Linked DNA regions of Homo sapiens: region 1 is linked to region 2. The links come from fine-mapping of genetic effects on gene expression. A gene starts in region 2. The other region holds a variant in brackets. All regions are shown on one strand. Distances are between the middles of the regions. Region 1 overlaps MIR2052HG (MIR2052 host gene). Region 2 holds the start of PI15 (peptidase inhibitor 15).

Evidence for each region. PIP is the estimated chance that this variant, and not a neighbour inherited with it, causes the effect.
Region 1: its variant is fine-mapped to the expression of PI15 in unexposed skin (GTEx, PIP 0.94).

The regions. Positions count from the first base shown.
Region 1 is chr8:74,606,491-74,611,884 of GRCh38, forward strand. The region is part of intron 1 of MIR2052HG (MIR2052 host gene); the gene reads left to right. LINC03071 (long intergenic non-protein coding RNA 3071) reads right to left here. Exons shown (of 7, transcript NR_183468.1): 7 at 3,303-3,550. Among named protein-coding and RNA genes, the nearest start is that of MIR2052HG, 9.4 kb to the left of the region's middle. The variant C/T (reference allele first, on the strand shown) is at 2,853.
Region 2 is chr8:74,821,184-74,826,577 of GRCh38, forward strand. PI15 (peptidase inhibitor 15) reads left to right here and starts at 3,351. Exons shown (of 6, transcript NM_015886.5): 1 at 3,351-3,492; 2 at 4,027-4,339. The coding sequence starts at 4,067.

The sequences.
Region 1 (5,394 bases), 210 kb before region 2:
GGCCAGCAGGGAAGAAGTAAAAGAATACTATTTTAAAGTTCTGATGTAATGTGAAAAATGGTATAATTTCACTTAAAGGTAGATTGCAGTAAGTTAAAAATTTATACAATAGTTCTCACTTATAAGTGGGAGCTAAATGATGAGAACACATAGACACGTACAGGGGAATGATAGACACTGGGGCCTACCCGAGTGTAGAGGGTGGAAGAAGGGAAAGGATCAGGAAAAATAACCAGTAGGTACTAGGTTTGATACCTGGGTGACAATCTGTGCAACAAATTCCTGTGACCTATATAATAAATCTGCTCATGCACCCCTGAACTTAAAATAAAAGTTTTAAAAAATTGTACTTTAAATCCTAAAGCAAACATTAAAAGAACACAACAAAAACATAGCTAGTATGTAACAAAGAAAAAAAGGCAGATAAAATGAAATAATAAAAAACCCTCAATCCTAAAGGCAAAAAAGGACAAATTGAACATTACCAATAGCCGTATTAAATGTAAATGGCCTAAAAATCCCAACTAAAAGGCAAAAAAATTGAAAGATTGGAGAAAAAAGCAAGATCCAACTATATATAGCCTATAAGAAACCCACCTTAAATATAATGACCCACACAGAGTAAAACTTAAAAAAAAAAAAAGATTTGCTTGCTAACATCAATCAAAAGAAAGCTGGAGTGGCTATATTAATATCAAAGAAAGTAGATTTCAGAACATAAAAATAATAGTAGCTATAAGATAATTAATTCACAATAATAAAGGGAGTGAGTTTTTTAGGGGAAAATGATATTAAACATTTAAGCACTTAATAATAGAGCTTAAAAAATACACATAACAGGCCAGGCATGGTGGCTCACGCCTGTAATCCCAGCACTTTGAGAGGCCGAGGTGGGTGGATCACCTGAGGTCAGGAGTTTGAGACTAGCCTGGCCAACATGGCAAATCCCCGTCTCTACTAAAAATACAAAAATTAGCCGGGCGTGGTGGTGGGTGCCTGTAATCCTAGCTACTTGGGAGGCTGAGGCAGGAGAATCACTTGAACCCAGGAGGCAGAGGTTGCAGTGAGCCAAGATCATGCCATTGCTCTCCAGCCTGGGTGACAAGAGTCAAACTCCATCTAAAAAAATAAAAATACACAAAACCAGAACTGATAGAACAAAAAGGAGAAATAGGCAAATCTACCATTTTATTCAGGAATTTAACCCTTTTTCAGTAATTAATAGTATAAGTGAAATACAGGTTTAGTCACTCACTGCTCATGGAGTTCAATTAATAAGAGCAAAGTCTGGTATAAAGAAAGTGACTCTTTATTACAAAACTAGCTTAGCGGAAGTACAGCCTTCCTGTCTTAAGGGTACCGCTTCACCTTTGGATCAGAAAGTGGTTGCTTTTAAAGGGGGCCTATTATGAATGGCACACAAGGGAGAAAGCAAGCAGGTGTGGGAGGTGTCTACATGTTAGCTTGGTGCCTTATCTATTGGGCAGTTGAATTGGCATCTTCATTGGCAGAAATATTAATAGATTGTAAAGGTGTCCAAAAACTCTCCAGGTGGGAGAGAATTTTGCATGGGACTTTGGGTTGTAAATTGGCGGCTGTCTCTTCAGACAGTTTCCTGGTAGGTTAAAATTTCATAGCAGGCATATTTTAGGTTGTAAGTCAACTGTTAACTCTTGGATCACCTTTTCGGTGGGTGAGAGTTCTGCTCTAGAGCTTCTAAGCACATAATTAGATGAACTTGCCCTATAGGGAGTGTCTGGGGAAGAAGATGTAAAAGGTTATAATTGCATTTCTAAAGGGCTAAATAGGAAATAGGGAATGGGGGAAATGGAGAAAGGAGAAAAGAAGAGAAAATAATTTTTTAAATTGTAACTCTTTTTTTCTTTAACAACTGGGTTACTCAGTTACGATAAGATGAAGAGAAAAAAACATCTATAAGAATATTGAAGTCTTAACACTATCAATCAGGTTGACCTTATTGACCTACAAAGAGCACTCCATCCTAAAAAATCAGAATACACATTCTTTTCAATGTATATTTTATGTGTATTTAATATATAGTTCACACTAAATATTTACCAAGATAGACCATATTCTGAATCATAAGTTAAGATTCAATCAATTAAATTCATACAAAGTATATTGTCAGACCACAGTTAGAAATCATGAATAGAAAAATCTCCAAATATTTGAAAATTATAAAGACATTTCTAAGTAAACTGTGTGTCAAGAAAGGAATGTAGAAAATATTACGAACTGAATGAAAATGAAAATACAGTATCAAATTTTGTGAGATGAAGTTAAAACAAAACTTAGTGGAAAATTTATGACACCAACTACCTGTATTAGAAAAGAAGAAAGGTCTCAAGTCAGTAATCTCAGCTTAAGTTTTAAGAAATAAGAAAAAACAAAATAAAATCCAAAGTAAATACTTTTTAATGTTACAGAACATAATAATAAAAACCAGAGCAGAAATTAATGAATGAGAAAACATAAAAGTAATAGAGAAAATTAATAAAAACAAAAGAATTTTTAAGATTAATAAAGTTAATAGGCTTTTTGGCAACCAGTGATAAAAATAAGAGTAAATATGCAAATTACCAGTGTCAGGAATAAGATATGTGACATCACTAAAGAGTTTATTGATATTAAGAGGATAATAACAAATATTGTCTCTTAAAATATGTGAATAAATTTGACTACTTACAAGAAAAGAACAAATACCGTGAAAGATAAAAATTAACAGAGTTTACTGAGGAAGAAATAGATAACCTGAATAGTCCCATATTTAGTAAAATAGTTGAATTGTAGTTAAAAATTTTTTACACAGGAAACTTTAGACCCAGATGCTT[C/T]GCTAGGGAATTCTATCAAACATTTAAACAAGAAATAAAGCCAATGCTATACAAGTTCTTCCAGAAAATTATAAAAGAGAAAATATTTTTCAACCAATTATACGATGCCAGCATTACTCAAACACCAAAACCAGACAAAGATATTGCAAAGGAAGAAAATTGCATGCCAATATTCCTCATAAATGTGATACAAACCTTTCTAACAAAATTTTAATTGATCAAAGTTAACAACATATAACAGTGATAATAAGTCAAAACCTTGTATGATTTATTCCAAGAATGCAAAATGAGTTTAACATATAAAGATCAATCAATTTAATATGCCAGATTATTAGACTAAAAAAAGATACTCTCATTTAATGTAATAAATGTATTTTATTTATAATAATAAATAAATAATAATAATAATAAATAATACTTATTCTTAACCTAAAACTCTCAGCTAGGACTAAAAAGAGAGTGCTTCAACCCACTATGAACATATGTGAAAAACCTACAGACAACATAATACTTAATGGTGAAAGAAAATTCTTTCTTCATAAGACCAGGAAAAATGTAAGAATATTTACTCTCATCCTTTGTATTTAACATTATATCGAAACTTCCAGCTAGTGCACTAAAACAAAAATAAATAAATAAATTAAAGATGTTGATATTGGAAAATAGTAGTCCTGTGGGAAATGTATGGCACCAACTACCTGTAATGGAAAAGAAAAAATGTCTGAAATCAATCATCTCAGCTTACATCTGTTCTTTATTTGCAGACAACATAATCATCCAAAAAAAAAATTCTATGGAATCTTCAAAAGATACTAGAATAATGTGTGAATTTAACAAGGTTGCAGGATGCAAGATTAATATACAAAATTTAATTGTGTTTGTATATTCTTGGAATCAATAATTTTAAATTGAGTTAAAATTCAATATCATATACAATAGTGTTCTTACTTATGAAATAGAGAATAATCTTCAAAAGGTATGCAAGACCTGTAAAATACAAACTATACAATATTGCTGAGAAAAAATTTTTAAAACTTATGAAAAGGAGAGTTATGTTCATAGTTTGGAAGATTCAACATTGTTAATATGTCAAGTATCTAAATTAATCTATAAATTTCTCAGCAGTCCTTTTCTTTTTAATAGAAATTGACATGCTCATTCTAAAATTTATGTAGAAATGCCAACCACTGAGAATAGCCAAAAAAACTCTGAAAAAAAAGAGGCAACTTGGAAGACTTACATTTCCTGCCTTCAAAAACCTTTATAAAGCTACAATAATCAAAGCAGTATGATATTGGCATGAGGATAAAATATGATGAGTTCAGAAATATACTCACACATGTACAGTTAATTGATTTTTGACAAGGAACCAAAGGCAATTCAGTGGAGAACAGATAGGTTTTTCAATAATGTTGCTGTAACAATTGAATATCAATAATTCAATTGAATAACAATTGAATAACAACACCCCACTGCCTACCTTACATCATATACAAAAATGAATTCAAAAGAAATTATAGACCAAAAAGTATCAAGCTAAAAATACACAATCTCTAGAAGAAAACATAGGAAATTGGATTAAGTAAAGACTGCTTAGATATAATACCAAAAACATAATTCACAAAATAAAACATTGATAAATTGAACATTATCAAAATGAAGAACAGCTCTTAGAAAGACACTATTAAGAGAGTGAAAGATAAGTGACAGTCTGCTAGAAAATATTTGCAAATCATATATCTGATAAAGGGTTTATACTTTGAACATAAAAATCTTTCAAAACTCAATAATAAAAATAATGTAATATTGGCAAAATATTTGAATAGACGCTACATCAGAAAATATATATAATGGCAAATAAGCACATTAAAACACTAAACATCAATTTTTCATTAGGGAAATGGAAAGTAAAACACCATGAGATACCATTGCACACCTATTACAAATATCTTATATTAAAAACACTGACAACATCAAATGTTGGAGAGGATGAAGAGAAACTGGAACTCTTATATACTGTTGGTGGAAATATAAAGCAGTAAAACTATTTTTTGAAAGAATTTGGCGATTTTTAAAAAAATTACATAAATTACATGCCATTTAATTTGATTAATAGTTGATTTTAAAATGACCCTTCCTAAATGGCCATGTGAATAGTATTTGTGAGCCTTTTGCAAGATGTCTGTTAACATCCCCTGCTGTAATGTAAAAAACACATTTCTTTAATAATCTTGCTTCAGAAAGTCTCTCATAAATAGTACATTTTATTTATTTAGACAAGGAGAATTATATAATACATAATACTTTTCTTTTTTACTTTGTAAGGACACTACGAACAAAATGTAATGTTTCATGATTATAAATCTCTTAAGCTGTGGTTTTCATTTATCTGTTCCCTCAGCTTTATGGCTCCTCATGTAAATTTGCAGAAATCCATCCATTCATCCATCCATACACCACCTATCATGATTGATAGGATGTTCAACTATTTGGAATGCCAGTAGAGGAAATTGTGAAGCAGGTTTACTCTGCACCAGTTGTT
Region 2 (5,394 bases):
TCCTTCCTCGGCCTCCTGAGTAGCTGGGACTACAGGCGCTGCCACCATACCTGGCTAATTTTTGTATTTTTAGTAGAGACGGCGTTTCACCATGTTGGTCAGGCTGGTCTTGAACTCCTGACCTCAGGTGATCCGCCAGCCTCGGCCTCCCAAAGTATTTGGATTACAGGAGTGAGCCACCGTGCCCAGCCCATTTTTTTTTTCATATAAAATAGAGGTTGACTTGTGTTCTCCACTTCAAAGACACTTGGGCCTACCTCTATTGTCTTTTGTTCTCTCCATGTTATTAGATAGATCGCCTTTTCCAATAGCTGATTCAGGCATGTGTGCAGTAGATTGTCTCTCTGTGTCTCTGGAAGCATAGTGATTTAGATAGTACTTCTCAAACCTTAATGTGCATATGAATCATCCAAGATTCCTGATAAAATGAAGATTCTGATTTAGTGGGTCTTGGCTGGACCTGAAATTCTGCATTTCTAACAAGCTTCCAGGTGATCTCAAGGGTACTAGTCCACAGAACATATTTCAATTAGAAAAGAATTAGACTAAAGTCAAATGCATATGTGACACATACACACATACATACACACACACACACACACACACACACACACACACACACACACACGTCAAAGTAGCTTTGCTTAAGCAGGTGTACCATTCTGGAATGCTTACATCTGATTTCCATTTTAAAATAACAACCATTTTCTCACAGGTTTCAAGATGCTGCCAAATGTGTATGCATTTCTTCTCAGTAATATAACTACATTCCATTTCTGTCTCTGTTGGCAAGCAGGACCTAAAGGTTTCAAAACATGTCAATGGTCTTTTTCAAGAAGAGTCCTCATAAAAAAAACCACCTCATTGTTAGTTGTTCATTAGCAGTCCTCTTACTGACAACTTGGATGTATGCCTCTTAATTTTGCAAGTATTTTAAAATTACAATTACCTCCAAAGCATTTCAAATACTTCTTCTGGCAATAATGTCTGCTTGGAAGCAGAATTCTTAACTCTCCTCCCACAGGTCTTTTCTTTTATGATTCCATAGCCTTGTGGGTTTCCTTAATAGTCCGAAATTCCACAATATAATCCATGTGTGCTGAAAGACATTTGAAATCATTGACATGCCTCAGGGTCTCCGGATTAAGCAACTATCAGCTCTGCCCTTATGTAATTGGACTCAGAGGTGATCTCCTGTTTAGATGCATCTCAGAAATTCCTTCTCCTCCTCCTCCATCCAGCCACTTCCTGCACTTAGAGGAAATCCATTTTTGGTTTAGACAAGTTTGTCAAGCATCACATTTTTATCCCTATGGAAATCTTTCAAGTCAAACCCCAAGAGGTGGACAATACCTCTTTGTGTATATGACAAAGGGTGTAGTCTTAAATATAACTTTCGATTCTTATGAGGTTCTAAGCAAGAACTCAGTCACCCTGGAGAATGAAAGGCTCATGACTGCTGTTCAGGTATTAAAAGTCCTTTTGTTCCTCAGATAGCTGGGAAACTGTGTGAGATATGTAGAGAGTAAAGGCTAATGTGTGCTGCCACTAATTTCTCAAAAAGTCCACAGATCTTAGAGCTGGATGGCCTACAGAGAGTTTCTCATCTAACCTCTGATTTAATTCAGGAATCCTTAATATAGCATATTTGAGATTCATTGAAGGTGCCATGAATACTTTCCAAAGTGGTGCAACCCTAGTTGGACAGCTCCACTTGTTAAGATCTGCAGCTGTGAACAACCATGTGAATTTCCTCTAGTTGCTCCAATGTTTCATAATATCCTTGCTCACCTCCTGAGTTTATATATCTGTTTATGCCTTTTCAAGTTTAGTATTAATTCCTTGTTTAAAGCTCTCAATATTTCAGCTATGGCTCTCCTAAAATGATTTCACTTTAGTTAGGAGTTGAATAGTCATCAAAATGTGTCAAAACCTGGACTTTGGTATATATTATTATAAAGTCTGTATCTCATCACTGTAGTTTGAATTTTAGTGACACCTCTGGTACACCTCACTACCCTCTTAAAGAACTTGATGATGTCTGTCTCACCATAGAACGTGAATCTTTTCTCTCCCATTTTTAGGTGCACCAATGAAGAGTTAAACAGTATGCATTTGACCACACATACTACTCGTGATCCAACTGGGAATATATCCTAGGAAACTTGGCTGCCTGTCCAGTGTGCCACATGACCATCATTTCTGATGACTGTAAATTCACATAGTATTTCTTCTGCTGAAACATGTGGGAGACAATCACATTAGCAAGCTGGAAAAAATCAGTGTAAGTTAAGTAAGTTTCTAAACTGAAGAGCGTGTGTTTTCCAGGATTCCTATTGCTACTGACTGTAAGTGGTCCACATTTTGTTAATGAGATCATGACGCATTTTGGGGAGGGTCCTTTCATTATAGAGCACCAATGTTCACATTCTTCTTCTTGCTTTGCCTGACATAGACTTTGCCCCTGTGACATCCTCCTAACAAGGCACTTCTAATTGTTGGCAGCTGCTGCTGCTGTTAAAATTCTTCATGGCCTCTGTGTTATGCCCTCTAATACATTTCCTGAGAGGCTGAGCTATTCTCTGCTTAAAATTTCAACTATATGCTCTAAACCTGAAACAGATGTTATCTTGGCTGCTGTCATTTGCCATGAGCTTCTCTATTCACATTTTATACAAGGCAGGTAAAAAGCAAGTAATTTCTGACCTCACTCTGTAGAGAAAGAAAAAAGGGAGAGAAGGTAAAATAAGAGAGAGAAGAAGAAATATATAAAGCACAGGAATGCAGCCACATGGAAGCAGAGAACACAGCCACTTGAGCATCTATTATCCTAATATCATATGCTATAGTTTGGTTACTACCGATTTGCCTGGCATCCCTCTCGAATCATATTTGTGGCCACCCAGATTAACTATGTTAGCTGATCTCTTGATTTAATATCAGCTTGTTCTTTTTAGCTCCCATGTCATTTACTGTCTTAAAAAAATGTACTGCTTGTTACTCAACTGTCTGTTTTTTCATGAACCCACAGTCTTTTTTTTTTTTGTCTTTGTTTCTTCTTTTTTGTATGGGAACCAGGAACTAGAAAGCATAAAATGAGAGAAATTACTCACAGAAAAGGTGGAAGCCCAGAGAAAAAGGGGTTTGTCTTTTATGGCTTGTACTTTGTAAGCTGTGGGTGTGACTCAATTTCCTCACCACCCACATAAAAAGGTTGCCACCCAATCACTGTTTTTTTCTACCCCAAACCCCTCCCCTTTGATTTTGGCTAAGAGAGACCCTTAGAAAGACTGCCCTTTCTGGACGTTGCAAACTGTGACATATAAAAGCTGTTAGCTGCTCCTCTAGCCAGCAGCATTCAAACCTTGCAGAGCTTTGCTCTCAGAGAGTTTGTAAAAAGACACACTCCTCTTACAAGAGTTCATGCTACCACATAGCAAAGAACCTTAAATTTTTGGAAGAACAATATATTCATTTTGGCATTGTGCAGAGGTAAGCTATTTAGCTCAACAAGTTTATATTGCATGCATTGATTTTAAAGTAGCTCACATTTTTTTAAAGAAATGAGATTGGATTACTATGACTTTTTTGTATGTGTTCTATCACTTGGTGTGTCTATATGTCTGGCAGACATTATCAGCACATTCTCTGTTGTTACCTGTGATTCATTTTTTCTTCACTCTCCAGGTGAATTTCAATTGCTGAAAATTTCCCACTGAAAATATGCAGTAATATATTTTGTGGTTCAGACATTTGGGGCAAATGGTTCACATTCATTTTAGGGTTAGTGGTCATGCTGTTTATTTTTCTCTGCTATACAAAGTTCCTCTTAGGGGTCTGCCTCATGACACTAAAAAATGAATAGAGATTCTACTGTAGGTTATCTCCTAGGCTTGAGTTCAACATTTGTTTGGATTTTTGAAGAAAGTCAAATCAAGCAATGCTCCCAAATGATGTCTTTGTAAATTCATACCCTCTGGCCCTATTTTTTTTCATAGACCCTAACTCTACCTTTCTGCTTTAAAGCAAAGTAAACTCGGTGGCCTCTTCTTCTCCACCCCTCAAAATGATAGCAATCTCTGCCGTCAGCAGTGCACTCCTGTTCTCCCTTCTCTGTGAAGCAAGTACCGTCGTCCTACTCAATTCCACTGACTCATCCCCGCCAACCAATAATTTCACTGATATTGAAGCAGCTCTGAAAGCACAATTAGATTCAGCGGATATCCCCAAAGCCAGGCGGAAGCGCTACATTTCGCAGAATGACATGATCGCCATTCTTGATTATCATAATCAAGTTCGGGGCAAAGTGTTCCCACCGGCAGCAAATATGGAATATATGGTAAGAAGAATTCTTTTTTTTTTTTTTAAGTTCTGAGTGAGAAAGCTTTATATTGTACATCTGCAGAATCTCAAACGACCACGAGTGTTTATATGTCCGGGTATATGGACTTTTTACATATTTTAACCTAAGGTTCTTATGTGCCTAATAATGTTGAGTACTGTTGCATCACAGAATCAGAGAGACAGAGAGGTCCAGAGAGACAGAGACAGACAGATAGAGAGAATCTATGTAGACTTTCTTCTGTGAGTTCCATAGCTACTGGTGAATTGTATCTTATGTAAGAATCATAGATAAAAAGTGGGGTATGTTGACTGATCACATTTGGAAGGTCCACTTTAAAAAAAGTCACATGAACTTTTTCTGTGCTTTATCTCACAGTCATATTTATCAGCTATATCATTTCTTGAAAATACTTCTTAAAATTATAGGTTTCATATGCATGATTTATTCTCTGGGTAGGTGTCTTTTCCCTTTTTTGGACAAAGTTCTTACTGACGCTAACCTATTTGTATTCTAAGAGAACATGCTGACTTTTTTCTCCTTGTGATTTAATGCTTTGCTGTCCAGATAACAGTGAAGCCAGTGCATTTGCACACTGTTCCAACTTGCCGTGAACACATTTTTTGCTCTTTCTTAAAAATAGACAATGTTTAAATCATTTTACTTAGAAAGTAAAAAAAAAAGTTAGTATTGAAAGGAAAAAGTCTTGTTAAAATTTTTATTTGGTTTTGAATTTATGCAAGGTTATGATTTAAAGTCCAGCGTCTTACAAGAGCACAGCTTGGAGCCTGTTTAAGGCAATGAAGACCATCAATATGGTATTTCCAAATTGGGGTGAGGGGAGGGGGTACCACTAACAGTTTTATATGTGCTGAATTAAAATTTGGGATTTTTATCATATTCTAGATTCACTTGTTTTATGTAAATAAGTTATATTAAAAAGTTTGGCTAGTTGCAGATGCCAATGTCACAGGAAAACTAAAGACTTGCTAAATGATGTAACAGAGTCACAGTTCATAGAAGTACAATTTAGACTCTGTGAAAATGCATTT